Linked DNA regions of Homo sapiens. The protein of the gene in region 5 interacts with the protein of the main gene of each other region in a biochemical or structural test. Each region holds a gene or a part of one and is shown on either strand. Other genes may lie near its edges.

Region 1 (4,153 bases), on a different chromosome or scaffold from region 5:
ACATTTTTATACGGATTTCTTTAAACCTCATAGGTAGTTCTCACTGGAATTGGTGCAGATGAGCAACTTGCAGGTTATTCTCGTCATCGTGTCCGCTTTCAGTCGCATGGGCTGGAAGGATTGAATAAGGAAATAATGATGGAACTGGGTCGAATTTCTTCTAGAAATCTTGGTCGTGATGACAGAGTTATTGGTGATCATGGAAAAGAAGCAAGGTAATTCTAATCATTTGAGTGTTCTTACGGTATTTTTATAAAAACAGCAGAGTGTAAATGGAGACTTTAAAGTTTGTTTTCTCTTTGGAGACTGTTCACATGAATAAGAGCAGCAATAATAGCTTGGCTTTGTATTATAAACAAAGTCAGAAACAGAGCTGGGAAGAGCCAGGAGAGCATTTATTTTCTAGAACTCATTCTCTAAGAAATGTCTTTTCAGTAATTTTCAAAGGTAACATAATGACAGGATTGTTTTTAAGACTATAGTGAAAAATACTGTCAAAGTAGGCCAGGCATGGTGGCTCACACCTGTCTTCCTAGCACTTTGGGAGGCCAAGGCGGGTGGATCACCTGAGGACAGGAGTTCAAGACCAGCCTGGTAAACATGATGAAACCCCACTTCTACTAAAAATACAAAAAAATTAGCTGATCATGGTGCTGCATGCCTGTAGTTCCAGCTACTCGGGAGGCTGAGAATGGCTGAACCCAGGAGGTGGAGGTTGCAGTGAGCCCAGATCGCGCCACCGCACTCCAGCCTGGGAGACAGTGCGAGACTCTGTTTCCACAAAAAAACAGAGTAAAACTGAGATAGTGAAATACTAAGAGAAGGTATTTAGAGGGTTTTGTTCAGCTTTTAATGTTTGCTTTCCTCCCAGTAAGGGCATAAGCCCCACCTGCAAGCCTTCTCCAGTGTTATAGAAACTGGCTTTGTCTCTATAGACATTTCTGTATGTACAGATCCATGCTGATTTGAAGGTAGTCCTTACACTGGATATTCCTCTGCCACGTTTTTTGAACACAATTTAGTTACATATTGCAGATTACCTAAAACCTTCAAAGAAACCAAGGCACTTTCATGTATGTATTCTTGCTTTTCAGGTTTATTTTTACCTATATCATATTTCTGAAGGTAGTGAACAAGTACAGTATTTGAATAAAACTTTCTAAAACATTAAGTAAGGATAAAGGAAGATGTGACATTTAGTTATAAAGAGCAAAAATTCATTCAAGTAGGCTAATTGATTAAGTGGTAGTTTATTACAAGGGTGCAAGCATCCAAGAATAGGAAGTCCAAGTAAGCTTCATGAGAATTAAACATACTACACTTTCTCTCCCTCTCTCTCTCTCTCTCTTTGACTTCATTGTTTCTTGTCTCTACTTCAGTCTTTTCCTCTTTCCACTGACTTGTAGTTGCCTTTACACAGTTGTCTTTCTTAAGTTTCTGGTCCTAGCCCATGTAAAAGTTTAGCTACTATGTCATTATTCTGTCATAATTTTCAAGATTTCACTATAAACTGATAACTAATGCCATAATAAAGTCCGTAAACTGTTAAACTGTTTTCTCTTTGAAGGACATGAGAGAGGTAGAAATTCAGTCTGTTATTTCAGCTAGGTCATAGAGAAAGGAATTTGTCTAGTAAAAGCCCTTACTTATGAAAGTATTATATTATGCTCAAATAAAAATGCATATGAAGAATGTTTAAAGCAGCTAATACAGAATTGTGATATAACAAATATAGTGGCTAGATCTAAATAATTTATTACGTATCTTGACATACATATTAACAGTAGTGTGTTGATTTGATTCTCTAGTTAAATTTGCTTTTGCAACTCATTCATTTTTATGTAATATTCCAGATAACAAATGTCTTTGTCCTTTCCAATCTCTTAACCTAGAATAGGATGTAATAAAACGGAAACACTAGTGTAACTGTATTGCATTTTGAGATGTGGGATGGTGGGTGTTAAAGTATTTTAAACAGAAAAAGAACATAATTTTCTAGAAATTGGGGAAGGAAAAGGGCAGAAAGTTTTTTTTTAATCGAATATTTTGTTTCTAGGTCATCCCAGAATTTAGGGGAAAAAAATCTAATATTTTGTTCTGTTACAGTAATTTATCACCATTTAATTGGTTTAAGTATAATTAAACAATTTTGAGTAACAAAATTTTACCATAAGTGTTTTGCAGGTTCAGGACTGTGGAGCCCTTCTATATTGGTTCCATATCCCTAAAGTGTCATTTCTTTAGACCTGATAAAGATCAGACACAGATTGAATAGTTAGTTAAGATCATGCTCGTAGGCTAGGTGCGGTGGCTCACTCCTGTATTCCCAGCACTTTGGGAGGCCAAAGCAGGTGGGTCACTTGAGTTCAGGAGTCCGAGACCAGCCTGGGCAATGTGGCGAAATCTCATCTCTACCAACAAATACAAAGATTAGCTGGGTGCGGTAGTGCTCACCTAGGCAAAAAAAAAAAAAAAAAATCATGTTTGTTTTCAAGGCCTCCACAAAGATACCTTGTAAAACAATTTGAAATTATTTCTGGACACAATAAACCTAATTTATTTATTGAGATTTAGACTATTTTGTAGTATATGTATTAAAATTAGTCATGTTGTGAAACAATTTGGTTAAATTTTAGCTATAAAACTGTGTATAAATCAAAGCAGGTTGATTTTATTTTTACATAGTGGTTATATTATCTGTCTATTTTAGATTTCCTTTCCTGGATGAAAATGTTGTCTCCTTTCTAAATTCTCTGCCGATTTGGGAAAAAGCAAACTTGACTTTACCCCGAGGAATTGGTGAAAAATTACTTTTACGCCTTGCAGCTGTGGAACTTGGTCTTACAGCCTCTGCTCTTCTGCCCAAACGGGCCATGCAGTTTGGATCAAGAATTGCAAAAATGGAAAAAATTAATGAAAAGGCATCTGATAAATGTGGACGGCTCCAAATCATGTCCTTAGAAAATCTTTCTATTGAAAAGGAGACTAAATTGTAATGTGATTCACAATGTAACAATATAAAAATAAGTTTTTATATAATTATATAAAAGTAAGATACTCTGCTGCTTTACTATTGTATAACATAGTAGTTTTAAAGTTCATTTGGTTGAATTTTCATTTTTTCCTGTCACAGAGCTTCTAAAACCATGGAATTTCCTTAGTGATAGGGAATATCTTTTGTTGTTCATAATAAGCCCCTTTTGATCACACCTGAGTTTATGCTAATGCGTTGACTTAGGGTGAGGTCTCTAAATAGCCTTTAACACCTGCAGCTTGGGAGGCCAAGGCAGAGGGATCTCTTGAGTCCAGGAGTTTGAGAACAGCCTGGGCAACATGATGAAACCTCATCTCTACCAAAAAAAAAAAAAAAGTACAGAAAATTAGCTGGGCATGGAAGCATGTGCCTCCCTACTCAAGAGTCTGAGGTGGGAGGATCACTTGAGCCCAGGAAGTTGAAGCTGCAGTGAGGCTAGGATCATACCACTGCACTCCAGCCTGGGCGACAGTGAGACCCTGTCTCTAAAAATAAAAATAAAAACAAAAATAAAAATCAAGTGATTAGAAGAGTTGGAATTTCATCCCCACCCACCAACCTCTGGGAGGGAGAGTGGTGCTGAAAATTAAGGTCTATTAAACTTTATAAAAACTCTTGAACAAGATTTGATGAGCCTCTGGTTTGCTGAACATGTGGAGGTGCTGGGAGTGTGGTATGCCCAGAGAGGACAAGGAAGCTCCCTCTCATCTTAATTTTTTTTAATACTTTGCCTTATGCATCTCTTCAATTTGGCTGTGCCTGAGATGTATCCTATATAATAAGCCAGTAAACATAAGTATTTCTATGAGTGCTGTGAGCCATTCTAGCAAATTATCGAACCTGAATAGGGGGTCATGAAAACCCCCAGTTTATGTAGCTGGTCAATCAGAAGTACCAGAGATCCAGACTTGAAATTGCCATCTAAAGCAGAGACACCTTATGGCACTGAGCCCTTAAATGGAAGGATCTGACACTCACTCCAGGTAGATAGAGGCAGGATTAAACTGTAGGATACCCAGCTGGTATTCAGAGAGCTGGAGAATTGCTTGGTAATTCTCCACACATCTGGTGGAAAAAATCCACACATCTGGTGTCAGAAGTGTTGTGTGAGAGTGAAGA
Region 2 (4,914 bases), about 28 Mb from region 5:
AAGAATGGAAAAGCAGCAGACAGTGTTCATGCATGGCTGACACTAGAAAGAATTCTTCTGGATTTCACAGTCATTGAAATGAAAAGATGTGATCCAGAACAGGATCTTCCTTTTAACTGGTGTCTGCAGTGTTCTCTCCTCTGCTTCTTCACTCATTTCAAGAAGTCTCTAAGGGGCAGCCTGATGTGGAAAAGATGTTAAGGGAAGAAGAGGGCATCCTAATTCTAGGTTTGATAAGGACATTTTTGATACTGGTAAAACCCTGAAATTATGGAAATTATGATTTGTTCTGTATGCCAACGAGAATCGTGGTTTTCCTTTTGCTCTTTTCCTTGCGAAGGAGCCAACTCCTTCTGGATCTTTGTTTTTATTTTTTCCTCCTTAAGTCACTGCTGAGGTATTTTTAAACCAAGCCAACACGTATATTTTATTCACCGAAGGAAGAACAAAGCATCTGCTAATAGAAGCAGTGAAAAAAGCACAGCAGTCAGAGGCCTCGTGTCTAAAGCTCAGTTCATTACTCCTAACCTGCCATTGGCCAATATTTCAACCTTTCTGAGTTGCTCTTTCTCATCTGCAAAATGGGGTTAATGGAGGATTTCATCTGCAAGTGGGGATAAGAGACATGAAAAGAACTGACGCGAAATAAACACGAGTTGAATCCTAACAATAATATTTTGACTATGTAGTTACAACAAACTTTTCTTTCTTCTTTTTTTTTTTTTCTGTGAGAAGTGCCTTTGGTGGATTTTGAATTCTTTTTCATACTGCCTGTTCTTTGGTGGGACTCCAGCAACATTGCTGTAACTCGAGGATATATGGCTGCAATGTGTGTTTGGCTTCCTTTCTCAAGGGGGTCAAATAAAAAGGCAACTGTTTAGAGAAGGCACCAAAGTACAAAACAAAAATCTCAGAATATGCCAGCCAATCTTGGAAAGTCATCTGAAGAAGAAAAAGTGCTGCTGAGGAAGGAAAACGGCCCTTTTGTGGGCATCACTTCTGCTCTTCTGAAAAAAAGCCCCGATGCTGCAATATTTTTCAAGGCAGAATATCGTCCCAGATGGAGGAGGGAGCACTGACAAGCAGAAAAGGAGAGACGTGCGGTTTCGAGGCAGCGTCTGTAAGGGGTGGAGAGCGCGGGGCTCGGAGCCTCGCAGTTCTTTGTTGGGGGCGCGGGCTTCGTTATTCCCGAGGCAGCAATGGCTCCCCCTCGGAGGTCCCTCCGCGGAGACCGCCTCGCGCCTCTCGCAGTCCCCAATCCCCGCCCCTCCCAGCCCTCGCTGACCCCACAACGTGGTCGGACTGCGGTGCCTTTAAGGCTTTTGCCTGCTGCACATGCTCAGCTCTTTGTGTGTTGTTGGAGTTTTTCTCTCTTAAGAGAAAAAGAAGAAATAGGCAGGAGGATGGGGCGGAGGAAGGGGGAAGCGCTAGGGAAAAAGCGTTGCACTTTTGCAGCTGCAGACGGCGGACGGGAAGGACTTCTTTTCTGCTGAAGCTGCGAAGCCTGTGTCGATCTCTCATTCGTGGGGCTCCCGGGGCGCGGGGTGCGGGTGGGGCCGGGGTGCCCGCACCGGCCGGGGGGAAGGGCACGCGGGCCACACCTGGGGGGCCTGTCTCCAGTCAGCGCGCGGGCCAGGCGGGGTGGGCGCGCGCGCGTGGGGGAGTCCCCGGTCCCTGTCAGGGGCGGGGCGAGACCAAGGCGCCGGGCCTGTGGGGAGGAGTGTAGGCGCGCGCGAGGGCGGGGGGCGGCCCCACGCATCGTGGGCTCCCGGCGCTGCCGCTGCGGCCGGCTCGAGGCACCGGAGACAGAATGGCTGCCGGGGCGCCCTTGACCGCCGGGCGGGCGAGGCGGGGCTGACCGCCGCCTCCTTGATCGCCCCCTTCCACGTTGGGCGCGCCCACTTCGGGGCGCCCGCTCGGCCCCCGCCCTCCTGGGCGCGCGGCGCTCGGAGCCGAGGCAGTTGGCGCGGGCCGCGGGCGAGGCGGGGCCGCGCGCGGGGTCCCCTCCTCCTGCCGGTCAGGTCCCCTCAGGAGCGCCGGGCGCAGTCTGCGCCTCCCGCTCCCCGCCTCCGGCCGGGTCCGGGACGCCGCGGCTGTGGGGTCGGCCCGCTAAGGACAAGGTCGGGAGACTGGGTGGCGATGCCCGAGTGCGACTGGAGGCAGCCGAGCGGAGGCGACGGCGGTTGGGATCTGTCCCTCCTGACCGGGGAGCGGGACTCGGACGGGCGCCGGTGAGGAGGAGGAGAAGCGGCGGCGGAGAGGTTTTCTGCGGCCGGAATTCCCTTCAACAGCATCCCTGTCGGCGCCCGCGAGCGCAGTCTCGCCGGGCAGGGGCGCCGGGGAAGATGGAGACTGGGGGCCGGGCCCGCACTGGTACCCCGCAGCCAGCGGCCCCGGGGGTGTGGAGGGCTCGGCCGGCGGGCGGCGGCGGCGGGGGCGCCTCCTCCTGGCTGCTGGACGGGAACAGCTGGCTGCTGTGCTATGGCTTCCTCTACCTGGCGCTCTACGCGCAGGTGTCCCAGTCCAAGCCGTGCGAGAGGACCGGCTCCTGCTTCTCGGGCCGCTGTGTCAACTCCACCTGCCTCTGCGACCCGGGCTGGGTGGGGGACCAGTGCCAGCACTGCCAGGGCAGGTTCAAGTAAGTGCCTTCGCCGGACCCCGAACCTCCAGCCCTGCCTCGCTCCCGTCGCGGCCTTCCCCGCCCCCCTCGCGGCCTCCCCCGCCCCCGTCGCTGCCTCTGATCCCCCGGCCGTGAGTGAACCTCAGCGCGCGGCGGGAGCGGGCGAGAGTGGGGCCCGCGCCGCGCCCCCTCCAGCCCCGGGGCGCCCCGGGAGAGCTCGGGCCCGCGCGGAGCCCTGACCAACGGGGAGCTAGGCATTTCTCGAGCGTTCCAGATGTCCGCAGCGACTTCTGATCCGCTGCTCAGCACGAACATTTTCACAATCAGTTATGATGCCCAGCACCATTTTCTTGGGATAATATTTAAAAATCAGAAATTGTCCAAGTTACTTATGAAATACATGCGCATTGTGAAAAATTCACAAAAGTGTAAAGGTTCAGTTATGATCTATGAGTGCCTCTCTCTTTCCCCATTCTCTTCTCTCTAGAGGTGACCCCTTCTAACATTTATTTAGTCATCATAGTGATGTTAATAAGTAGAGTTTATGATGGACTTGCTAAGTGCCAAACACTCTTCTAAGCGCTTTATGTCAATTTTCTCATTTATTCCCTACAACAACTCTGTGAGTTGCTAGAATTATTATGCTGGATTTACGGAGAGAAATCGAGGCGATACATTGAAGTAACTTGGCCAGGATTACACAGTAGTAAGGGCCGAGTTATGATTCCAAATCAGCTGGCACATTCTGGAGCCAGTACACACTCCAGAATGTGTACTTTTAACGAATTTGCTGTGTTGTATTTGCTAGGACAATCTTGAATTGAGAAATACAAAGGTGACTTTAGGTTAGATAGAAGGACGTTTTTATGTGGTGAGGATAATGGATTTTTTTCTGATCGGTTAATTCACTGTCAGCTTTTGTGCGGGAACATCGCTTTGGCTTGTTTGAAGCTCAAGGAGCCTAAGAAGTTTGCTTGCTAAGGTGAAGGTACTTTCTTCGTACTGGTTGGTGTTTATTACATTCTTGCCTGATATAAAAAGCAATGGGTCACAGTGTAGGGGAGTAGCAAAAGTCACTTAATATTGGGGCAGGCTTCTAACAACATGCAGGTAACAGTCATTAAGAAAGTCAGCTTCTTAGTCTTCTAGATACTTAATATGAAGTTTGCTGGCTGGTTTGTGGCTCTTGAATATTGTAGATTACTGATATTGTTAGGCTGATAGCCAAAATCTAGGTGAAATTTCTCTTGGGCTCTAAGGCAAAGGTAAGACTGGTTCACCTTATTAATGTATTCTAGGACAATTTCCTGGAATTTTAAACACAGCATACTTTCCTTTTTTTTTTTTTTTAAAAAAAAACTTACTATTACTGATTAAAATAAATGTCCCTTAAAACTCAATGTAAAAATGTATATTTTTAAAATGGCACTTTAAAATTTTAGGTAGAGTCTATGATTTAAATTAACTAGTAGGTTTTGGAAGTGAAATCTTAAAGTGAAGTTTTATGAAACTTATGCAATAGGTTGAAATTTTTCTAGGGTTTATACTTTAAAGGTAGTATAGTAATGTAGTTTTAAAAATACTTTTTAAAAAAATTAGGAGAGATGCTGATTAAAAGTTTAAAAAGTGTTTCAAGATGAGGAAAGAGATCTTAATGAATTCTGCTTGTTAGTTGTTTTTTTTTGCTTGTGTTCTTAAACGTTTGCTATGACAGTAGAATTCAGCGTCTTTACCTAGCAAGAGAGAATTTTGAACATGTAAACTGGTAGTCAGCAGTGAAAAAGCCTCATCCATTTTTTACATTTTTTTTACATAAATAGGGAGAGTGCCTGATTTATATGTAGGGATATTGGCTTTTGTGTGGGTGGGTTTGCTCCGTTTGTCTAAAGAGGACAAAATTTGCTGCAGTCCTGAGAAGCTTCATTTTAAAGTAGCGGAACTTGTTAATCAGCTGGATCAGCAGCCTGTGACCTCACTAGCAGATGTTGTCCCAGTTAAAAAGATCACAGATCAAGTTAAAACTAGCTTAAATAACATTGAGAGGTGGTGTTCATAAACAAAATACATTAGTGAGTAGAAGAAGAATAGATATTTGATGTAGATATTGTTAAATAACAATAAATCCTGAGCTAATCACTGAGTATTCATCTTTTCCTTGGAAGCTATTATTTCCTAGGACTCATTGTACTCTATTGGGTAAATGCTTTTGCATTTCTCTGTGGAATACAAGCTATTAATTAGAGTAAATATAACTGGTGTAACGATCTGTGTTTTTATTATGTATACTCTTGGGG
Region 3 (4,216 bases), on a different chromosome or scaffold from region 5:
CATTTGTGCTCTGTTTTTGTGCACAATTTTGATAATCCCTGGAGGCTGAACCCACGCTTCACCATCCACTTGCACTGGGACTCCTTCGTCACCAAATATAGTGATTTTCACTGTACGGCACTGAAATAAAACAAATCATTTTAGAGTACAAATCATCCAGAGAAAATGACACTCAATCTTTATGAAGGCTTGAGTATTAGACTATTCTACAGAATAGACTATTATGCTTTATCACTTATAAATGACATGGTAAAAACTGATATGACAACAAAGTCAGAATATTATAGATGAATATCCAGTGTACGAGTTGTTTAGAATAGATTCCTTCAACCCTCCTTAGCCCAAGAAGTGCAGTCAGGTTTGACGAGAGAAACCAACCTGGGCTATTCGATGATGCTGCAGTTTAATGACCCTTGAAACTGCCATTTGCATGCTATCAAATATTGCTACAACTTCCAGGATCTTGTCATCAAAGGATGGTGCAGCAAATATCTGAAAGAAAAACTACATTACACTTCTACTGAATGTTTAGGTGAAGAGCACGTTAAGCAATGTAAACTGCAATATATATCTACATATATTTAATATATTTAATAATATATTTAAGTAAATATTATTAGGAAATAATAATCCAAGAAAAAAATCTCTGAAGATGACTTCCAATAAACCTAACTTTAAAAAGGGTTTTCAAATATACACGGATATACTACTCATACCTCTCATTAAACTACTCTTTGGACCAGTTAACTAATATATTTCTAAATAATTCACCTTGGAATAAAACATGTTAAATACATGTTCATACCTAATTCAAACATGTTAATAAGATGATACATGTAAGTTTTGGAAATCTAAAAAAAACTACAAAGGCGATATAGTGTCATAGAAAGGTGATATAGTTTCATAAAGTTAAAGCTAATGAAGATGCAAATTATGATCCAGTTTACTTGATATATTCTAAGGGAAATCTTTCAAGGTTTTACAAGCAATATACATATGTGCTTTATATTTTAATACAAAACTTTTGAGGGAACTTGAGAGTATGCAAATAGAAACCTCAGAAGATAAAAATTATGCAGACTTATTTTGTCTTTACATTAGATGCATTTTCACAAAATTAATTTACTCTAAAATTTTATATGTAGGCTGTATTACCTTACTCTCTCTTTTACTATATCATAAATAATATGCATCTGAAACAATTTTCAGTATAAAGTAATAAGCTAATTAAAACTTTCACTGAAAATATCAGGACACAAAGTTGCTAACATTGTAATTTGTAATTTTTTTATTATACTGCCTGAATTTAAACCCTGTCTCTGCTATTACTAACTGGAAACTTTGTCTTAGATTCTTCAGCAGTAAAAATCAAATAAACAACGTGGACATTAAATAATGAATGTGAAGCTCTTAGAACATTGTCGGACTACCTAGCAGGTGTTCAAGGAATGTTGGCTTTATTTACCTTAATCTCACTGATTTCTCCCCTTCAAAATACTTAATAGTGACAAGCAGACAAAAGATGCTTTTATACTCGAATAGGACTGGAATATATTTATGTCATGAAAATTACAAATACTTTCCAATTGATCTTATACTGTATCCCTATCTGTCCATTTAAGATCTTTGAGAATAACAGATCAGTAGGAACCATTATATCATTATATCATAAACTCAAATCAATGGATGTGACTCTTCAAATAAAGACTGTGATAACACTTCTCATTTTTACTGATATATATATATATATATATACACACTTTAATAATTGTGCCCTCTCTTTCATTCTTTTCACAACAATTACATTTGTAAGGTTGTGTTTTCTTCTTTTTCTAATATAGAAAAGTATGAAAAGAAAAACAAAAATAGCCCTAAACTCGACCGGCCAAATGAGCCCTCTTGATATTTCTGAAAATAAAAAATATATACACACACAAGTTTAGAAAATTAAAAGTACTGAGGCTGGATGCAGTGGCTCATCCCTGTAATCCTAGGACTTTGGGAGGCCGAGGTGGGTGGATCACCTGAGGTCAGAAGTTCGAGACCACCCTGGCCAACATGGTGAAACCCCCGTCTCTACTAAAAATGCAAAAATTAGCCAGGTGTGGTGGTGTGTGCCTGTAGTCCCAGCTACCCAGGAGGCTGAGGCAGGGGAACTGCTTGAACCTGAGAGGCAGAGGTTGTAGCGAGCTGAGATTACGCCATTGCACTCCAGTCTGAGCGACAGAGTAAGATTCTGTCTCAAAAAAGAAAGAAGGAAGGAAGGAAGGAAGGAAGGAAGGAAGGAAGGAAGGAAGGAAGGAAGGAAGGAAGGAAGGAAGGAAGGAGAGAGAAAGAGAAAGAAAGAAAGAAAGAAAGAAAGAAAGAAAGAAAGAAAGAAAGAAAGAAGGAAGGAAAGAAGGAAAGAAGGAAAGAAAGAAAGAAAAAGAAAGAAAGAAAGAAAGAAAGAAAGAAAGAAAGAAAGAAAGAAAGAAAAAGTAAAAGTACCAAAAGGTATTGTGGTAGGCAGAATAATGCCCCCTCTCTGCCCCCTAAAATGTCCATGTCCTAATCCCCCAAACCCGTGAATCTGTTACCTTACACAGCAAAAGGAACTTTGCAGATGTGATTAAATAAAGGGCCTTGAGATGGGGATGATCCTGGGTGATCTAGGTGGGCCCAATGTAATCACAGTGGTCATCAAAAGTGGAAGAGGAAGCAGCAGACATCAGAGAGATGCCATGTGAGAAGGATTCAACCTGCCTTTGCTGGCTTTGAAGATGGAGGGGAATGTGGGCAGCCTCGAGACGCTCCAAAGACAGGGAAATAAGAGTCTCCCTTAGAGCCTCCGGAAGGCAACAGCCCAGCTGACACCTTGATTTTAGCCCAGTAAGACTGTGCCAGTCTCCCATCATATACAACAGTAAGATGATAAATGTGTTTGAGGTGGCTAAATTTGTGTTAACTTGTTATAGCAGCGATAGAAAACAGATGCAGGTATAAAATTAAAAAGTAAAATCTTCCCTTCCTTATTTCATAAATCTACTTTCCAAAAGCAGACCCACTATTTAATGTTCATCCAGAAAATTGTGACATACATCCCAAGATACGAATATCTGTATCTTCAACATGAGAAAAGTTGGAGTACATCCACAAGAGACTGTTACAATAAAATCTTAAATAAATCTATTCCATGCCTCACTTACCCAATGCAAAATATTTAACATGAAATTAAACTACTATTCAACAGCCCATTTACAAAAGCAAATTATTCCAGTGATATAATTATTTTTGAGGAAACAAACTATTTACTCCCATTACTTACATCATCCTCTTTAGTTCCACCCCAAAAGTTAGTGCCTCCAGCATAGCTGGGAATGTTCAACACGGCTATGCCTTGCAAGCTGGGAAGAGGAATATACTGCCCATCACACTGTAAGGTAAAAAAAAAAAAAAAAAGTAGAGATTAGATAAAAAGAGCAGAACCACTAGTATGGAAGATACTAAAACACTAAAGATGAAGGACAATGGAGCACAGTGTGTTCGTAATGTCTGCTCTCTACACGTTACCAAATCATTTATCTTATTTTTTTTAATTAAAAAAAGTTTGAAGTATAAATAACTATAGCAGAAGTTATTACAAAAAACTGATTTTTAAAGAAATGCTTTACCTCTTTCCTCCAAAACCAGGGAGTCCTTTTCTTGAATCATTTTCAGGCCTTTTATGTACTTTCACCTGCATTGTGGTCCTCTATGTACTTATTTTAAGCATCTTTTTGAAAGCAGACTGGGTAAGAGAAAGTTGATCCTAACCATCTCACTTAGCCCCTCTCACAGTCCCTGGTACATTGCTGGGGCTCTACAACCACCTGGGGACTGGTGAAACTCAAAGCTGAATACTTCAAGTACAAGTCAGAACCAAAGTCAAGCAAAAATATATGCATCTCAGAAAGCTCCTTGCAGTCCTTACTTTCTCATTAAGCACTTAAATGAAAAGTAAATTACCATGTAAATGGAAAAAAAGGATATGGCTGGTGAATGGATGTGAATAAATTCTTACTGAGTAGAAGCAGAACTGTTACCTTCTCTCATAAATGTTGTTTCTTAATTTCAATTAATGCTGTTTATTCTATTAACTTTTAAATAAAGTCTAGTTGGCTATTAAGGAAACAATTAGTTATGAAACTAATTTTTTAAAAATTACTCAAGAAAAATGAGCATAATTATGTTACATACA
Region 4 (4,216 bases), on a different chromosome or scaffold from region 5:
AACAGCTGGCCCTGTGGCAGGAAGACATCCTGGGCTCACAGATGCCAGGGGAAGGAAAGCTGGGCTGAGGGAATTGCCCTCCTCAAGGCCTCCTCTAATGCCACCTCCTCCACGGAGCCCACCCAGATTTTTGCATCTAGTGTTTCAGGGGAAATCTCTAGGGCCCACCTCATTTTCCCCACTCTTGGGCAACTTAAGGGCTTCTCCATACTCCTGCTAGGCCACTGAGCTCCCAACTCAGGCTTTCCATACGATATCAACAAAATCAATAAATGCTTGTCCAAACAACAAATTAAAATATGGAGAAATGAGTGAGTGGTGGAAAGAACATTGGGCTAAAAGTCTGGAGAGCTGGAGTCCAGTCCTACCCTTCTGCTGAGCCAGTCCTTCACCCCGAGCCTCAGTTTACCCAAATATCAAATGTGGGGGTGGCCTAGACTCTAGACCACTGGTTTTCCATTTGTGTTTTATGATGCCCTTGGGCTCCAAGGAGGTGACTTGGGGCTCTCTTGGGGCAGGGAAGGAGTGGTGGGAAGTGAGTTGAGGGTCCCCACTGCTACCAGGGCAGCTCTTGGTCTCCTAATCAGGATTCTTATAAGATTCCATCTGGACAGATGACTCTGTGGCTCAAAATGGTGTGAAAACACAGGCCCAGATGTCCCCAGGGCTCTACTGTACTGCTTCTGTCTGGGTCGAGACTCTCAAGGGGAAGAGCTGTCCTGGGGGGGACCCTGAGCGGCCCTGGCTGCATTTCCCTGGCTGCCAGACCCTTCTTTCCCTTCCCACCGCCCTCTCAGGACGGCCCTGCTGGCCCTGGGGCATGGCCTGCAGCCCAGCTTACCGCACTGGCGTTGGAAAGAGTTCAGCCTTGTAGATGGTGAGGCAGGTTAGGCTTATCCCAAAACATCCCTTTCCCAGCACAGCAAAGACCACACGCAGGGTCTGCAAATCTGGGTACAGGAAGGGGGTGAGAGTGGGGTTTGCCCTGGAGGGTACCCAGGGGCTAGTCAGTGTGCGGCCAGCCAGCCTGGAGCAGAGGGGACCCTGGGCTCCCTACAAGTCCCCGGCCCTGCTGGCTTGGTGCGGGGCTGCCCAGGGCTGGGGTTGGGGGACAGAGCATAGGATGCGATATCGCGGCAGGGGCCCGAGGGGCACAGGCAGAAACCCAGCCAGGTCTAGGGTAGCTGAGCCTGGCCGGCCGTGGAGGCTGCACTGAAAGAATGCCCCCCACCGCGGCTCCTAGGGTCCCGAGATGCCTCTTGCTATGACGGAGAGAGCGCCGGGCCCGGTCCACAGCAGCCTTCCTGCTGCCCGCCAGCCTGCCTGTGTGGGGATGGCAGAAGCCCTGGCCTGGAGGCGGAGGTCCGGGCCCCCTTTTGGCCGCAGGCCTGGCCTCCCCAACGCGTTGCTCCGTGGAGGTGCCTGAACTGCTGGGAGGTGCTCGCCGTTGTCAGTTTCCTCGCAGCTGCTCGCGCTCAGAGCTTGGGCTCTCGCTGCAGCCTGCAGGGCCCCGGCCGCCTCCGTCCCCGCTCAGGCCTTCTGCCAGCCGCAAGGCAGCCTCCTGCCTTCCTCCCGGCTCTGCCGCCACCGCACGACGTGCCGCCCTGTCCCTTTCCCCCAGTCTCCCACCCTCAGCAATAAAAGGAGACACAGAGAGGGATTCCAGGTCCTCATAGCCTCCCTCATTCAGAAAGAAAACAGGGAGGCAGCTCCTGGGGCCAGGGAGGGGATGTGGCCCCACGCTCAGAGCAGTGGGGTGGGCGGGGAAGCAGGGCCCGGTCCCACCGCCCAGTCCGCCTGCCTCACCTTGCGGCACCAGCATGTTGGCTAGAATGGCGAGGCCGGCCATGGCCTGGGAACCCGCCTGGATGGTGCGGCGGCCAAGGAAACTGAGCAAGAGGGCAGTGGTGGCCCGGCCCAGGAAGTCCACGGCCCCGAAGAGGGCCTGGAGGAGGAAGATGTCACGGCCCAGGCTCTGCAGGTCGAAGACCAGCCCATAGTAGGAGATCAATAGAGAGAAACTGCGGGCAAGGCTGGAAGTCAGGTCCCTGCCCTGCCGGGGAGAGGGCACCCCAACAGCAACAGCACCTCCCACCAGGAGCTGCCTGGGAGGACATGGCCAACCCCGGAGGACAATCCTGGGCTTGTCTCGGCCAGCGATCCCAGAAGCCTGCCAAACTCAGGACACAACCCCAGCGTCAGGCTCTTCCAGGAAAGGGCAGGCAGGGTGGCTCCACCATCCCTTCACACACAGGCTTTGTGTCAGGGGCAGCGATGCGCTGGGGCGTTGCCTCTCTGGCTGGGACCAAGTCTGCCCTCGGGGGCCTCTGAGCTGCCCCTCACTTCCGGACTAGCCCTCTCTGGCTTTGATTCTGATAACCAGTCACACTGTGCCTTTCTCTTGGAAGATGGGAATCATGGCAGGACAGGGCCTCTCGGGAGACCCTGGGCTGCATTGCCCAGACCACATTCAGGATGGAGAGCCTGTCCCCCAGCCCCTGGGAGTGCTGCCCCTTCTCTGGGGAGAGCAGCCTGTGACTGGTTCATGGGGCAGAGGGACCACCCAGAAAGGCCCCAGCTCCCACGCTCCCAGGGGCTGGGCTGGGCCCAGGCTGTGGCTGCATCTCCCCTTGCCTTCCCTTCTCCATCTCAGGGTCTGCTTTCTGCCCACTCCCCCACCCCACTGGCTCACGAGTAGCTGAATTTACGGTATTTAAATTCTCATGGTTTGGAGATGGGATTTGGATCCACAACTGGCTGCAAGGTAAAATTCTTCTCGGCCACGTTTAAAATCTGTGCTCTCCCTGCTTAACCCAGATGCTCCTCCCAGCCCTCCCCTTAGGCGTCACCTGATTGCATCACCCAATAAACATCGGACAACACCAGCCCAACAACATCAGAGTAAAATCGCACAAGCCGCGGTGTTTCATGAAGTTTATGTGAGTGACGTGAGAGTCACTGGGCTGGTGCTCAAAGCGGCCGACACTGGAGCCTTGGACAGATAACAACTGGGTTAACAAGACAGGAAAACCCACAAGGTCACCAGCTTCAAAGCCTCTGATTTGAATAACAAAGGTTGCAGAGCCGGCCCCTGGGAGAACTGAGGAATCCTGGAAGGTTTTTTTTTTTTTTAAAAAAAAAAACTGGTCCCGGGTGTTTGCAGTGAGAGCACTCCTTCTGATTTATCAGAAAAAAATTGAAGTTTTTTAAAAAAGGCATTTGATCTATCTTTGTTCTAAGATGTAGCAAGTATTTGCCATCATAACCCATATGTGGTTAAATATAGCATAAAAGAAACGTTTTCCTAAACTTCAGTTTTATTTCAAGATAAAAGTCCCAATCAAACCAGGTCCTTAGGTTTTTTTTTTTTTCCTTTGACGGAATCTTGCCCTGTCGCCCAGGCTGGAGTGCAGTAGCACAATCTCAGCTCAGTGCAGCCTCTATCTCCTGGGCTCCAGTGATCCTCCTGCCTCATTTTTTGATTTTTAGTAGCGATGAGAGGGTCTTACTATGTTACCCAGGCTGGTCTTGAACTCCTGGGCTCAAGCGATCCTCCTGCCTCAGCCTCCCAAAGTGAGGGATTACAGGCTTGAGCCACCGCGCCTGACTGGTCCTTGCTTTTTAATATGCTCTTTTGGATGTCACCGGAACTGAATTTGTTTTAAGGGCCTTTTCCTGGGCCCAGATGACCTTGGGTCCCGGGGAGGGCCAGGGTCTGGTCGCGCGGGCCCTGGCAGTGACAGTGCCGGTAAGCCAAGTGTTAGCTCAGCCCGGTTCCAATGCAGGCTCTATTATTTTGGGCTTGTTCCTTACCCCTCTGGGATCCTCTTTCCCCATCAGTGAAGTGGGGTTGCATGGAGGGGTCAGCGAATGCAGGTTCACCCTCTAGGAGCATGGCCATGGTCTCTAGGAAAGTGGTAAGTCTCTAACGATGACACACAGTGGTACTCCTCGGCCGTGGCTGGTCCCCTGGCTCTAGGGACCCTGGCTCTGCCTCTGTCTTGGGACCTCCCTGGGACCCTGGGACCCCCAGCCTAGAGCTGCCTTTTCCTCTGGCTTCCTGCAGATGGCAGCCTCCAGATCCCACCTGTGCATAGTCCCTCTCTGCTGCCTGCCAGGACTCCTGCCTGCTGGGGCTGTCTGCGTCCTGTCCCAGACAGAAATGCACCCCCTTGAGGCCTGCGGGTGCTGTTTCCCCTGGACGCTCTGCCTCCTG
Region 5 (4,216 bases):
GGCAGGGTTGTCGGCTACCTCACTCTCTCCACATCTGCCAGGTAGCACAAAGCACCTGGCACTAAGATGCTTTTGAGTGGGTGCATTTATCCTGCCCTTCAGCCTGGCAGTGTCTCTGGGATGCTGCTGTGTCTTAGCTGCTGCATCTCCCTTTTCTCCTGGAGTCTGAAAAGTGCTCCATAGCTTTGCAGGGTGCAGGGGTTATAAGAGGCTAATCAAGGTTACAAATAGCCTGCAGTTTTTTGTTTGTTTGTTTGTTTTTAGACAGAGTCTCGCTCTCACCCAGGCTGGAGTGCAGTGGCATAATCTTAGCTCACTACAACCTCCACCTCCTGGGTTCAATCAAGAGTTCAAGCGATTCTCCTGCTTCAGCCTCCCGAGTAGCTGAGACTACAGGCACATGCCACCATGTCCAGCTAATTTTTTTTGTAATTTTGGTACAGACGGGGTTTCACCATGTTGGCCAGGCTGACCTCAGGTGATCTGCCTGCCTCAGCCTCCCAAAGTGCTGGGATTACAGGCATGAGCCACCACACCTGGCCACCCTTTTTTTTTTTTTTTTTAAGACCGAGTCTCCCTCTGTCACCCAGGCTGGAGTGCAGTGGTGCAATCTCAGCTCACGGCAACCTCTGCCTCCTGGGTTCAAGCAATTCTCCTGCCTCAGCCTCCCAAGTAGCTGGGACTACAGGCGCCCACCACCAGGCATGGCTAATTTTTGTATTTTTAGTAGAGACAGGGTTTCACCATATTGGCCAGGCTGATCTCGAACTCCTGACCTTGTGATCCACCCACCTTGGCCTCCCAAAGTGCTGGGATTACAGGCGTGAGCCACCACGCCCAGCAGATGCCTGCAAATTTTTAAGAGACAGAGTCTCCCTCTGTCACCCACGCTGGAGTTCAGTGGTGAGCGATCATAGTTTATTGTAACCTCAAACTCCTAGGCTGGAGTGACCCTCTCACCTGCCTCCTGAGTAGCTAGAACTACAGCCATGCACCACCACACCCTGCCAAATATTTTTATTTTTGTAGAAACAGGGTCTGGGCTCCTTTGCCTGGGCTGGCCTCAAACTCCTGGCCTCAAGCAATTCTCCTACCTCAGCCTCCCAAAGTGCTGGGATTATAGGCATGAGCCACCATGTCCAACAGCCTCCAAACCTTAATGGCTCAGAACAACAAAAGTTTCTCATTCATGCAACGTCCAATACAGTGCTCCTTAATCATCTCTCCTCCTCTCCATGCCCTGCATTCAGTCAGTCAACAAGCAGAGAGTGTGCAGGATCACAAGGATGGTTGCTAGAGGCAGACCTGGAAGGAGCATACATTGCTTCCACCCTCATTCAGTTGGCCAGAGCTAGTCCCAAGGCTGCAGTCAGACACAAAGCTCTAAGCAATGTGGTAGTCATGTGCCGGAAAGAGGAACTAGGCTTGGTTAGCAGCTGGTACTGGCCGTAGCGAATGAAAAACACAATGACGGCTTCTGTTGAATACTCCCGGGTGACTCTTCCCCAAGGACTGGCCTTTCCTCAGGACCACCTTCCTTATGCTCACCCCCCACCTCCACTATCCAATCAGATCACACCAGGCAGCAAGGCAGCCCAGTCCCAGCTCAGCCAGGGTGACCTCGTGGTGGCCATTGACGGCGTCAACACAGACACCATGACCCACCTGGAAGCCCAGAACAAGATCAAGTCTGCCAGCTACAACTTGAGCCTCACCCTGCAGAAGTAGGTGGGAGCTCTCCAGAGCAGGGGGCGGAGGTTTGGGTGTGGGCATGGGGCAGGGGCCAAAAGAGGGATTGTCCCATAGCAATTGAGTGGGCCCCGCCCTGGGCTACAAAACTGTGCAGGAAGATAAGGACAGCCCTGGGCCAGAGGAATGAACAGGCCCAAGTCGCTGTCAAGCACCTAGAGGCAGACATTACTGCCTCACTTTACAGTTAAGGCAGAGATGGTGGTCCTGGTGCTGCCCGTACGTGGGCCATTGGTCCTGGAAGGCAGGTCTTACCTACTTCCACTTTGCCCAGGCAGCCCCCAGTGACGTAGCAGGGGCCCATGGATTCTGACCAAAATGCCCAGGGGCCATGATTTCTCCATCCTCGTCGGGCCCAGGGCCTTCTTGGGGAGATCCAGCCCATGGGGTGGACAGTGGATCTGGGGCCCTCTGACTCAGCTATCTCTGAGAGCTGACTCTGGCTCTCTCTTGCTCTCTCCTCACCAGCCCTGCCCAGGCAGGAGCTTCTGGCCCCAGGGGCAACTTCCTCACCTGGTCTCATTTCTGGTTTCTACAGATCAAAGCGTCCCATTCCCATCTCCACGACAGCACCTCCAGTCCAGACCCCTCTGCCGGTGATCCCTCACCAGAAGGTAGGTGCTGACTGTGGCGGCGGGGTCCACTCAGCCCTGGTTCCTGGAGTGCTGGCCCTGGCCAGCCTGCCTGGTCTTTGGCTGGCCCAACTGGGATGAGGCCGTGGGATCAGCCCTGCCCCATCCCTGCCCCTGCTGCAGCTGACCCTGGGGAAGTGAGGCAGCCCCTTGGGAGAGACTTTCAAGCCCCTGTTGAACACTGGATGTGGGAATGAATGCCTGCCTGGGTGCAAGCCACCTCCGCTATGCCTCGTGGCTGGGCTGATAGGAAGCCAGCTTGGGCAGCAGTGTTCCCAGGAGAGGGGTCACCCTCCTGGCCAGGCAGGGGACGAGCGTCCAGGCTCTGACCTTCATTTGCCAAGGGGGCCACCGCTGGGTGACTGTGGCTGAGGCCCAGCTTGACGAGGACCTCCAGGTGTGGAGGGGCCTGCTGGCCTCACCCAGATCTCTCCCTCTGGTTTCCACTTCCCCACCTGCCCCTCCCAAGTGCATTCCCCTGTAGCCCTTAGGACGTGCTGGCAATGGCAGGCACAGGGGAGAAGGGAGGCCAAGCCCTGGCTCCAGACCTCACCACTGCCTAGGCCCTTCCCAAGGCCCCGCCAAGCAGCTCAACCCCCGAGGGCTCCCTGCTCAACTTCTCCCCCTATGTGAACTGATAGTGACCCCACCTGTCCAATGGGGCAGATTGGGCAGGGCAGTGGGGAGAGGGGAGAAAAAGAGGCTGACAGGGGTGGGGTAGGTCACAGACTGGGGAAGTGGGTGGAGGGCTGCTTGGGAGATGCTTGCAGAGGTAGACTGAGGGGCCCAAATGTGAGCTACCCAATTCCTCAGCTTCCCTCCTCACCTCCCCACCACCTGCCCACAACCAGCCCAGGAACTTCATCTCACTGGCAGTGTGGGGTCAGTGGAGCAGGAGGCTGGGCTGTGCCCACTGGGCACCCACTCTCAGGGGCAGGGGGAACAGACACAGAACGGGCCATCCCCTGACCCCTACACCCACTTCCTCGGGCCCTGGGGGCAGGAAGCTTGGCTTGGCTTCCATGCAGGGCTTGGCACTCTGCCCAGCTGGATGCCAGCCTCACGCCAGGCCAGGAGCCATGTGCCTGCCTGCTCCTCCACCAGTGTCCTCCCCTCCAAGTGCTGCGCCCAGGCGCTCTGGGCTTCAGGCTGCGGGGCTCGCGCTAACACATCTGTTTCAGGTCCACGCAGGAGCGCTGGGACGCGTGTGGCCTCTAACCGCTCTCTTCTCTCTCCCCTGCATGGCCTGCCCTGTGCCAGGACCCCGCTCTGGACACGAACGGCAGCCTGGTGGCACCCAGCCCCAGCCCTGAGGCGAGGGCCAGCCCAGGCACCCCAGGCACCCCGGAGCTCAGGCCCACCTTTAGCCCTGCCTTCTCCCGGCCCTCCGCCTTCTCCTCACTCGCCGAGGCCTCTGACCCTGGCCCTCCGCGGGCCAGCCTGAGGGCCAAGACCAGCCCAGAGGGGGCCCGGGACCTACTCGGCCCAAAAGCCCTGCCGGGCTCGAGCCAGCCGAGGCAATATAACAACCCCATTGGCCTGTACTCGGCAGAGACCCTGAGGGAGATGGCTCAGATGTACCAGATGAGCCTCCGAGGGAAGGCCTCGGGTGTCGGACTCCCAGGAGGGTAGGTAACGGACATACAGCTCTCCACAGGTGGCCTGGGCCACCTGGGTCCTCGGTGCTCGGCAGAGACCTGGTCAGGTGGTCAGAGCGAGGCACTGGCCCCAATCCAGCCAGCCCCGAGCCCATGAGGTCAGCAGTGATCCTGCGGCATTTGCCATGAGCCGGGCATGCTAGCGATTTATACAACCAACCACGCTGGGGTGACATG
Region 6 (4,216 bases), on a different chromosome or scaffold from region 5:
AAATTTAATTGCTGAAAAGACAATACTGTTAAATCCATATGACTTACACATAGCAATAAGCTATATAAAGAAATGTGTCCATATATAAGGAATTGATAGAAATAAAATTATGGGCCAGGTGCAGTAGTTCACACCTGTAATCGCAGCACTTTGGGAGACCAAGGCAGATGGATCACCTGAGGTCAGGAGTTTGAGACCAGCCTGGCCAGCATGATGAAACCCTGTCTCTACTAAAAATACAAAAATTAGCCGGGCATGGTGGCTCAGGCCTGTAATCCCAGCTACTCAGGAGGCTGAGGTAGGAGAACTGCTTGAACCCGGGAGCAGAGTTTTCAGTGAGCTGAGATCATGCCAATGCATTCCAGCCTGGGTGACGGAATGGGACCCTGGTAGAAGTTTTAAATGTCCTAAGAACATATCAAATTAAATCCAGTAAATGTTAATAAGTGTAATAATATAAGAATAAAATCACTTAGAAAAATGTAAAAAGCCAAAGAGAAAATAATTTTTAAACATGTATCATCTGATCTCTCCTTTATAAAACAGAGTAGAGGTAAATTCTGCTTTTCATCTGAAAGTCTCTTATTGTAACTAAGACTTAATAACAACTTTTTTTAAATGAGGAAAAGTTCTAAGATAATTTGGCTTTGAAAACACATTTAAAATAAAATAAAGGCCTAAATCTAGTATTCTGCAGGTGTGTGTGTTTTTTTTTTTTTTTTGGTAAGATGTATCTTTTGTACCATGTTTGCTGGAGTTTTGATCCAAAGATGTGTTCACAGAAATGCTGTCCACTGTCGTCCACTTCCTTAGTCTTGACTGTGGCTCTTTAATACTGTTCATATCCATATTTACATTCAAGTTTGAGTTCAAGCCTGAAAAATTAAAAAACAAAACAAAACCTTAGAAAATACAGCACATTTTCTTTCTAGTAGCACAACTTCTATTTCCTAGAAAAACATGTAACTAATGTTTTCAAACCACATAACTGTTAATACTATAATTTAGTTATACGTAGAAAATATTTCTCCATAAAATTTTGATGATTTATTTAAAACTCCTTGGCAAAATAAGAGGGAGAAAAGTTTTAAGGAAGCCAGATGTATAAGTTTACTTGGAATAAAATGTATCTGTTTAGCTATTTCCCAAGTGTACCTATGCATGAAGATCTGTGGTCACTTTCAGTTGCTATCTTTTGCTTGCAAATTCTAAAGTAAAAATGTCCTGTACTAGCAATTACACCTAGGCTGGGGACAGATATATCTTAAGGCACAATTTACTTGACCTTTGCTGATGAGGCCCCTCAGACTTGGATATTCTCTTGGAACAAGAATGGAAATTTCAACCTTAGATACAGTGGTCAGAAAACTATTAAGCTAGTTTTTCTTAAAAGAGTAATCTAGGGACTATTAATATTAGAATCACCTAAAACGCTTGTTTAAAAATGAAGACTTTCCAGTGGGAGCCAGAATCTTTGTTTCACAATTCCCAAGAGGTTCTTATTCTAAAGTTCCAAATTAAATTGTTTTAAATTCTCTGGTCTGATGAGTCCATGTGATGTTAAGGTCTGTCAAACCTGAAAACTTTAATAATACAAATTCTCTAATACCATGCGTATTTTTGCAGAGAGCAATTAAATTTGCTACTCTTGGACCCATCAATCGGATCAGGAGTTGACAATTTTTTTCTGCAGAGGTTCAGCCGGTATCTCAGGCTCTGTGGGCCACATGGTCCCGGTGTCTCCATGCAACTCTGCTGGTGCAGCACGAAAGCAGCCACAGACCCCAGGTTAGAGAAAATGTGGCTGTGTCCAACAAAACCTTACAACAGCAGGCAGTGGGCCAAATTTGGCCAACAGGCCATAGCCTGTTGCCGAACTTAGATAACTGTATTGGTATTTGCATGGGCTAAGCAGACTTTCTTAATCAAGAAGTATCCCTCACTGAGAAGCTGGCCAGGGCAGGAAATCCTATGCTTAGAACTTATGTGGCCAATTTATATGTCAAGTGTGCAGTCAAATAGGAAGAGCCAGCTCCCTTCACTGATGAGACAAAAACTTCTCCCTGTACTTGGGTATCATTCTTTTACTACTAACTGTTGTCTCTGACATCACCTGGCCACCACTAAATGGCTTCTTCAGTATTCACCCACAGTAGTAACTGACAAGGGAACTGTTTTTGGAAATGCAGAGATCACTAACAATCCTAAGGACTCAAAGTACAATTTATGTCCCAGGTGAGAGTCTGTGGTAATACCAGGCTGAGCCAAACCAGTTCAGTCACAGAGTGAGGCAGCAGCAGGGGCAACAGCATGCCCCAGCCTCTGCCCACAGCCCAGAACAACTAGTTAACTGATGGTCTTCAAACACTCTGGCTAACAACCAGCAAAGCTGGTTTACAAGAAACCACTGTATAGGAAAAGAGAGAGAAAAAAAGCAAAATAAACAGGGCATGAACAATCAATGGTTAAAATATAATCAAGGGCACAAGAAAAAAAGAGACCTAGGAAAGAAACAACATATAAGCTCAAAATCTCTACCCAGTGAATAAAAGCCTGGAGATAACAGAGAAAAAAGAGTGGGTGGGGGTGGGGAGTTGCATGTATAAGAAAGGCAATCTCCTTTCTTACCTCCATTTTTAAATTTATATCAGTAATCATTTATACATAGTTAGACAGTAGTTAAAACTTCAAGTTCTGAGAGCTAGCAAATGTGACTGTGACCATCCCCAGCTGTTTCACCAAAACAGCACTGCTCAAAAATTCTCTGGTGTACTGTTTCTAATAAGAACATCAGCCTTCCTTCCCACCCTTAATATCCTACTTAAGATTAAGACAGCTAGTCCTTTAAAAAGTGAAATGTTTCCTTTATTCTAATGCACTTTAAACGAGTGTGGAGTTTTTGAAATAGTGTGATTTTGAAGGCTGGGCATGGTGGCTCATGCCTGTAATCCCAACACTTTGGGAGGCCAAGGCAGGCAGATCACCTGAGGTCAGGAGTTCCAGACCCACCCGGCCAACATGGTGAAACCCCAAATCTATTAAAATACAAAGATTAGCTGGGCGTGGTGGTGCGCGCCTGTAATCCCAGCTACTCGGGAAGCTGAGGTGCGAGAATCGCTTGAACCCGGGAGGCAGAGGTTGCAGTGAGCCAAGATCTCACCACTGCACTCCACCCTGGGTGACAGAGCAAGACTCTGTCCTAAAAAAAAAAAAAAAGAAAAGGAAAGAAAAGAAAAATCGTGATTTTCTTGAGGAGAGAGACCTTCCCTGAATGTGGAGCAGGTTAAAACTAGGAGAGGGGATGGCAACTCTCTGAGAGGGAACAGCTAAGAGATCAATGTAGCTTTCATGAAGGAACAGAGCTGTAAGGGTACGTGTGAAGGAGGCACGCCTGTGATACCTAAGCATCAGTCCAATACTTGGGCCAAGGAGAAACCCACCTATAGGGAAGTTGCTGAAAGCATTTATTGGTGATGGCCCTTTTTGCAGCTCAGGTGTAGTGTGGGGCATGACATTGTCAAGGAAAGACTTCATGGCTGGCTGATGGAGTGGCTGCTGCTGAGATGGTGGAGTCTGCTGCTTCACCAACAGGTTTGGATCAAGTTGACGAGATTGTTGCATCATTTGCTGCTGCACACTAAGAGGTCGACCCTTAAAACAATGAAATGATTGGAAAAAATTACTGGGGGAAAACGTCTTTACAGAAAACTACATATTCCTCTCCATTTTTGAATTCACTTTCGTCTCAGCAGAAAGGTGAATAATCACTGTATAATGTTCACATAACTCATGGGCAACCAGCAGACTTAATGAAAAACATACTGCATTACATCTTAGTAAGATTGTTTTAAGAAAGACATTTCTGAATCTCTTGCTACAATGGAGATAAGCAGAGTTTATTAACACAAAGACAGCATTGCGAGTTGCAGGGCGGGCTCTACCTGCTGGTCTTGCTGCGGCCGGTTCCCAGAAGGCACGCTTCTCTGACTCTGCGCCCTTTGCTGCTGCGCTAACAATCGCTAGAGGAAAGATAGCGAAAAGGTTGTTACTATCACACCATTACAAAGTGTGTGCTTCCAAATGACGACAGCAGATGGACCTACAGAGGCACGACGTGATCTAGCCAATGCCAACATGTCTAGCATTATCTAGTACCATCTCTTCCTTGGACTCTCTGGTTTCTAGTCACTGCTGAAATTCAGTCTTTAGTTCAATC
Region 7 (4,216 bases), on a different chromosome or scaffold from region 5:
TTATTTATTTTGGAGAGGCACAGTCTCACCATGTTGCCCAGGCTGGCCTTGAACTCCTGGCCTCAGAGAGCCATCCCCCTATGGCACTAGGATTCCAAGTGCCCACCACAATGCCCAGCCTGCCTCATTAAAAAAGAAAAAAAGTCACACATGCCAGGTGCAGTGGCTCACACCTGTAATCCCAGCCCTCTGGGAGGCCAAGGTGGGAGAATCATTTGAGCCCAGGAGTTTGAGACCAGCCTGGACAATTAGCAAGACCCTGTCTCTATAAAAAAAACTAGCTGGGCAGGTCGGGCACGGTGGCTCACGCCTGTAATCCCAGCACTTTGCGAGGCTGAGGCAGGCAGATCACCTGAGGTCAGGAGTTCGAGACCAGCCTGGCCAACACGGGGAAACCCCATCTCTACTAAAAATACAAAAATTAGCTGGGCGTGGTGGCAGCCACCTGTAATCCCAGCTACTTAGGAGGCTGAGGAGGCTAAGACAGGAGAATTCCCTGAACCTGGGAGGCGGAGGTTGCAGTGAGCCGAGATCGTACCACTGCACTCCAACCTGGGTGACAAGAGTGAGACTTCATCTTTGCGGGGAAAAACAAAACCCACACACAAAAACTAGCTGGGCTTGGTGGCACACATCGGTAGCCCCAGCTGCTCAGGAGGCTGAGTGGGAGGATCACTTGAGCACGGGAGTTGGGGCTACAGTGAGCTACAATCGCACCACTGCATTCCAGCCTGGGGGACAGAGCAAGGCTGTATCTCAAAAATTTTTTTGACCAGGTGCGGTGGCTCACATCTGTAATCTCTGCACTTTGGGAGGCTGAGGCAGGTGGATCACCTGAGGTCAGGAGTTTGAGGCCAGCCTGGACAACATGGTGAAAGCCTGTTTCTACTAAAAATACAAAAATTAGCCGGGTGTGGTGGCGGGTGCCTGTAATCGTAGCTACCTGGGAGGCTGACTGGAGAATTGTGTGAGCCTGGGAGGCTGAGACTGCAGTGAGCTGAGATTGCTTCACTGCACTCCAGTCTGGGCGACAGAGTGAGACTCTGTCCGACTCTCAAGAAAAAAACAAAACTGAAAGCCACATTCCAGTATTAGAAGGCACCCGGTTGGGTGTCTGTAGCTGGCATCTCTTCTTTTCTTACAGGCACAGAAAGTAACGGGCTGTCTAGGGGGGTGGCATCTCCAATCCGCCAATCAGCTGTCGAGGGGTTTGAAGGTCGCTGACGGTGGCTGTGGTATGGGAAAGCACTCGGGATGCAGGCTGGGCTGAGGGCAGGAGGATGATGCCCGGGGCCCTCCTCTGAGGGTGTAGTCCCCGCTGGGGAGGCGAGTTTTGGTGAACAGCTGGGCTTCCGAGGATATCAGAGGATGGGGGTTTAAGGGGACACCGAAGTACGCACGGCCTCGGGGGACCTGCTTGCCAGTGTGCAGAACAGGGATGGTCACCCTCTAGTTTGCAGGGAAAGGAGCCTGGGGGGCTGAGAGCTGCCTCCAGCCTCTCATGAGGGCAAAGAAGCCCGGGGTCTCATCCTGTGGGTGCGGGACCAGCACCAGGCAGGAGCGGCGGAGCTCAGAGCCCAGAGCTGTTCCCACGCACACACCCTCTGCTCCCCGCAGCCAGCCCAGGATGGCTTCTCTCATGGATGAGAGAGACCCACAGAGGGTCCTCGGCGTGGCCTGGCACACCCGGCCTGCCCACATCCTGGTCGCAGGTGCTGGCTCCCCGGGCAGGGCCAGGCCCAGCAGCCTTATTTCCTGGGGCCTGGGTGGCAGCCTGCACCCTCCCGGTCCCAGAACCCGCTGGCATCACTCACTGTGAGCATCTTCAGGTCCGCCCGCTCCGCTGGGTTCTTGATGAGGCTGGGGGTTCCAAGAGGCAGGACCGGGAGGCGGTGGAGGAGACAAGACAGGGCAGTCAGCTGGTGGCCCCGGGGCACCCGCGTGTGGGCCGTGGTCGGAGGGGGCCTGGATCTCTCCGACCAGAGAGAGTGGCACAGAGTGGCTGCTCTGTTCTGCCTCCTGGCAGAGGACGAGGGATCCACCTCTGCACTTTGGTGCCAGGGGCAGGACACCCCCCAGCGGGAGGGTGAGAGGGAAAGAGGGTGGGAAACCCCGCCTGGTGGGTCAGAAGCCTGGACGCAACCCCAGCTAACTGTCTAATAAAACCCCAGGCCCGGGGCAACATCGCCGGAGCGCACGCCAAGGGCCCGGGGCAACTCCGGCACCAGGAGTGCGGTGCCGTTCCACGGCGTCCCGAGCTCACACACATGGACCGGCCCTGTGGGCAGCGGGGTGTCCGCAGCTCCTTCCCCGTGGTCTGCGGCACATGCCTGTGAAGCCCACGCCACAGGTGCTGCTGGGTGCTTGGGGGCAGGAGAATGGAGTGGGGCTGGCGACCCTCCCAGAACCTGCGGGCGGATCCCGGGGAGCCCACAGTCAGCACACCAGGGGTCCGGGGACCAGACAGAGGCTTCTCCTGCTGCAGACAGTGAGCTGGGGACACCGTCATGTGCACAGGGCCTGCAATCCTGCTTCACCCCTGGGCTCACGGACAGGATGGCATGGCAGCCGGGAGCTGCAGCCCCACAGCTCTGGGAAAAGGAATCTGGCTTCCCGTTGGGCTGAGTCCTGCCTAACGCTGCACTGGGATTCTGGATGGGCAGGCTGGGCCACGGGCCCCACCCAGGACCCGGAAGGAGTGGCACATCTGGGTCCCGGCCAGGGGTGTGGGCAGCCCGGCTCCACCTACCATTTATTGACAAACTCCTGGAAGTCGGGGGTGAACACACCGTTGGGCAGCTTAGGAGGTGGCTGTGGAGGAGAACAGAGGGTGGGGTCAGCCCTGGGCATCGTCAGGGACCCTCGGCTGCAGCCCTCTCTACCCCTCACTGTCCTGTCCGGTCACCCACCCTGCAGGCCTGGCCGACACCACATGCCAACTGGGCTGCACCCTGTCAGAGGTGGCCTTCTCCCGAAAGCTCTCGTTTGAGAGTCACGGCTGCTTAGAGGGAAAGAGTGGGGTGCGTCCCCCTTTTATCAACAGGACAACCTCTCGAGTGTCGTCACTTGCTTCCTTCCCCAGTGTCACTGGCTGAAGGATGAGCTTTGGGACTGGGCCCCACAGAGGGACATCTGGATCCAAAGTTATTTTGTTTTGAGACAGTCTCGCTCTGTTGCCCAGGCTGGAGTGCAATGGCGTGATCTTGGCTCACTGCAGCCTCCACCTCCGGGGTTCAAGGGATTCTCCAGCCTCAGCCTCCTGAGTAGCTGGGATGACAGGTGCCCACCACTGCGCCTGGCTAATTTTTATATTTTTAGTAGAGACGGTATTTCACCAGGTTGGCCAGGCTGGTCTCGAACTCCTGACCTCAGGTGATCCACCCACTGTGGCCTCCCAAAGTGCTGGAATTACACACCTGAGCCACCGTGCCCGGCCAAACTGGGTCCACAGTTTTAAGCCCAAGCACTGGGGAGCCTGGCCTGACACACGTCCCCGGAGCGGGAGTGGCCGTGTAAGCGGTGCCAGCAGGGCAGGGGCAGGCCTTTCCCGCGCAGGGGCAGGGGCGGGAAGAGGCGGGGGAGAGGTCGGGGGATGTGCTCACTGGGCATGGGTGTGGCTGCTAGGTGCAGGGAGAGCTGGGTCACCAGGGCCACCCCACCTGGCTCCGTCATCATCTCGCCACCCAACCCCAGGCCTAGCCCAGTCTGCAGGCAGCTCAAATGCCCGTTTCTCTGCCCCAGCTCCAAAGGGCCACCAAAGACACAGAAACCCACAGAAGGCCCAGGGAGGTGGCCCGGCCTGGTCACGTGGCCAACAGGACCTTGGGGTGCAGTCCTGTGCCTCCCTGACAGCTGCAGGCCTGGAAGGAGGCCGCGTCCCTCCTTGTGCCTTGTTTTACTCATCTGGGCGGTGGAAACCCTCATACTGTGGCTCACTGGGTTGTTATGGGGACTGACGGAGCAGGAGCCACCCCGGGACCTACAGGTCCTTCTAGGCTCTCTGGGCCTCCTTCCAAGAGGCAAGGGCCATTCCTGTACCTTTCTCCGTGGAAGCGGGGTGATTTATGAGTCCACGCCCACGGGCGCCAGGACGCTCTGATGCAGAGACACTGGGCCACTGCTCAAGGGGCAGGCTGGCTCCTCGGCCTGAGCCCAGGGCTGCTGGCACACACCTCCCTCTGGACTCAGGGTGAGAGGCTGCGGTGGGAATTCTGGG

The links.
Region 1: the proteins of LDB3 (region 5) and ASNSD1 interact in a test that uses a peptide from one of them, tested with the Homo sapiens proteins (one large-scale study listed by IntAct).
Region 2: the proteins of LDB3 (region 5) and ATRNL1 interact in a test that uses a peptide from one of them, tested with the Homo sapiens proteins (one large-scale study listed by IntAct).
Region 3: the proteins of LDB3 (region 5) and DGKH interact in a test that uses a peptide from one of them, tested with the Homo sapiens proteins (one large-scale study listed by IntAct).
Region 4: the proteins of LDB3 (region 5) and SLC22A11 interact in a test that uses a peptide from one of them, tested with the Homo sapiens proteins (one large-scale study listed by IntAct).
Region 6: the proteins of LDB3 (region 5) and TNRC6A interact in a test that uses a peptide from one of them, tested with the Homo sapiens proteins (one large-scale study listed by IntAct).
Region 7: the proteins of LDB3 (region 5) and MAP2K2 interact in a test that uses a peptide from one of them, tested with the Homo sapiens proteins (one large-scale study listed by IntAct).

The regions. Positions count from the first base shown.
Region 1 is NC_000002.12:189,667,731-189,671,883, forward strand, and holds the end of ASNSD1 (asparagine synthetase domain-containing protein 1), read left to right. Parts: intron 1-33; coding exon 34-215; intron 216-2,710; coding exon 2,711-2,996; 3' UTR 2,997-3,101; downstream 3,102-4,153.
Region 2 is NC_000010.11:115,091,406-115,096,319, forward strand, and holds the start of ATRNL1 (attractin-like protein 1 isoform 1 precursor), read left to right. Parts: upstream 1-1,959; 5' UTR 1,960-2,139; coding exon of another isoform or gene 2,140-2,231; 5' UTR 2,232-2,345; coding exon 2,346-2,638; intron 2,639-4,914. UniProt on the Homo sapiens protein: May play a role in melanocortin signaling pathways that regulate energy homeostasis.
Region 3 is NC_000013.11:42,205,235-42,209,450, reverse strand, and holds part of DGKH (diacylglycerol kinase eta), read right to left. Parts: intron 3,413-4,216; coding exon 3,305-3,412; intron 493-3,304; coding exon 379-492; intron 121-378; coding exon 1-120.
Region 4 is NC_000011.10:64,565,404-64,569,619, reverse strand, and holds part of SLC22A11 (solute carrier family 22 member 11), read right to left. Parts: intron 2,022-4,216; coding exon 1,807-2,021; intron 951-1,806; coding exon 842-950; intron 1-841. UniProt on the Homo sapiens protein: Antiporter that mediates the transport of conjugated steroids and other specific organic anions at the basal membrane of syncytiotrophoblast and at the apical membrane of proximal tubule epithelial cells, in exchange for anionic compounds.
Region 5 is NC_000010.11:86,677,795-86,682,010, forward strand, and holds part of LDB3 (LIM domain-binding protein 3), read left to right. Parts: intron 1-1,572; coding exon 1,573-1,724; intron 1,725-2,287; coding exon 2,288-2,363; intron 2,364-3,641; coding exon 3,642-4,009; intron 4,010-4,216. UniProt on the Homo sapiens protein: May function as an adapter in striated muscle to couple protein kinase C-mediated signaling via its LIM domains to the cytoskeleton.
Region 6 is NC_000016.10:24,806,009-24,810,224, reverse strand, and holds part of TNRC6A (trinucleotide repeat-containing gene 6A protein), read right to left. Parts: intron 4,020-4,216; coding exon 3,942-4,019; intron 3,652-3,941; coding exon 3,441-3,651; intron 876-3,440; coding exon 744-875; intron 1-743.
Region 7 is NC_000019.10:4,092,639-4,096,854, forward strand, and holds part of MAP2K2 (dual specificity mitogen-activated protein kinase kinase 2), read right to left. Parts: intron 2,812-4,216; coding exon 2,750-2,811; intron 1,861-2,749; coding exon 1,815-1,860; intron 1-1,814. UniProt on the Homo sapiens protein: Catalyzes the concomitant phosphorylation of a threonine and a tyrosine residue in a Thr-Glu-Tyr sequence located in MAP kinases. Activates the ERK1 and ERK2 MAP kinases.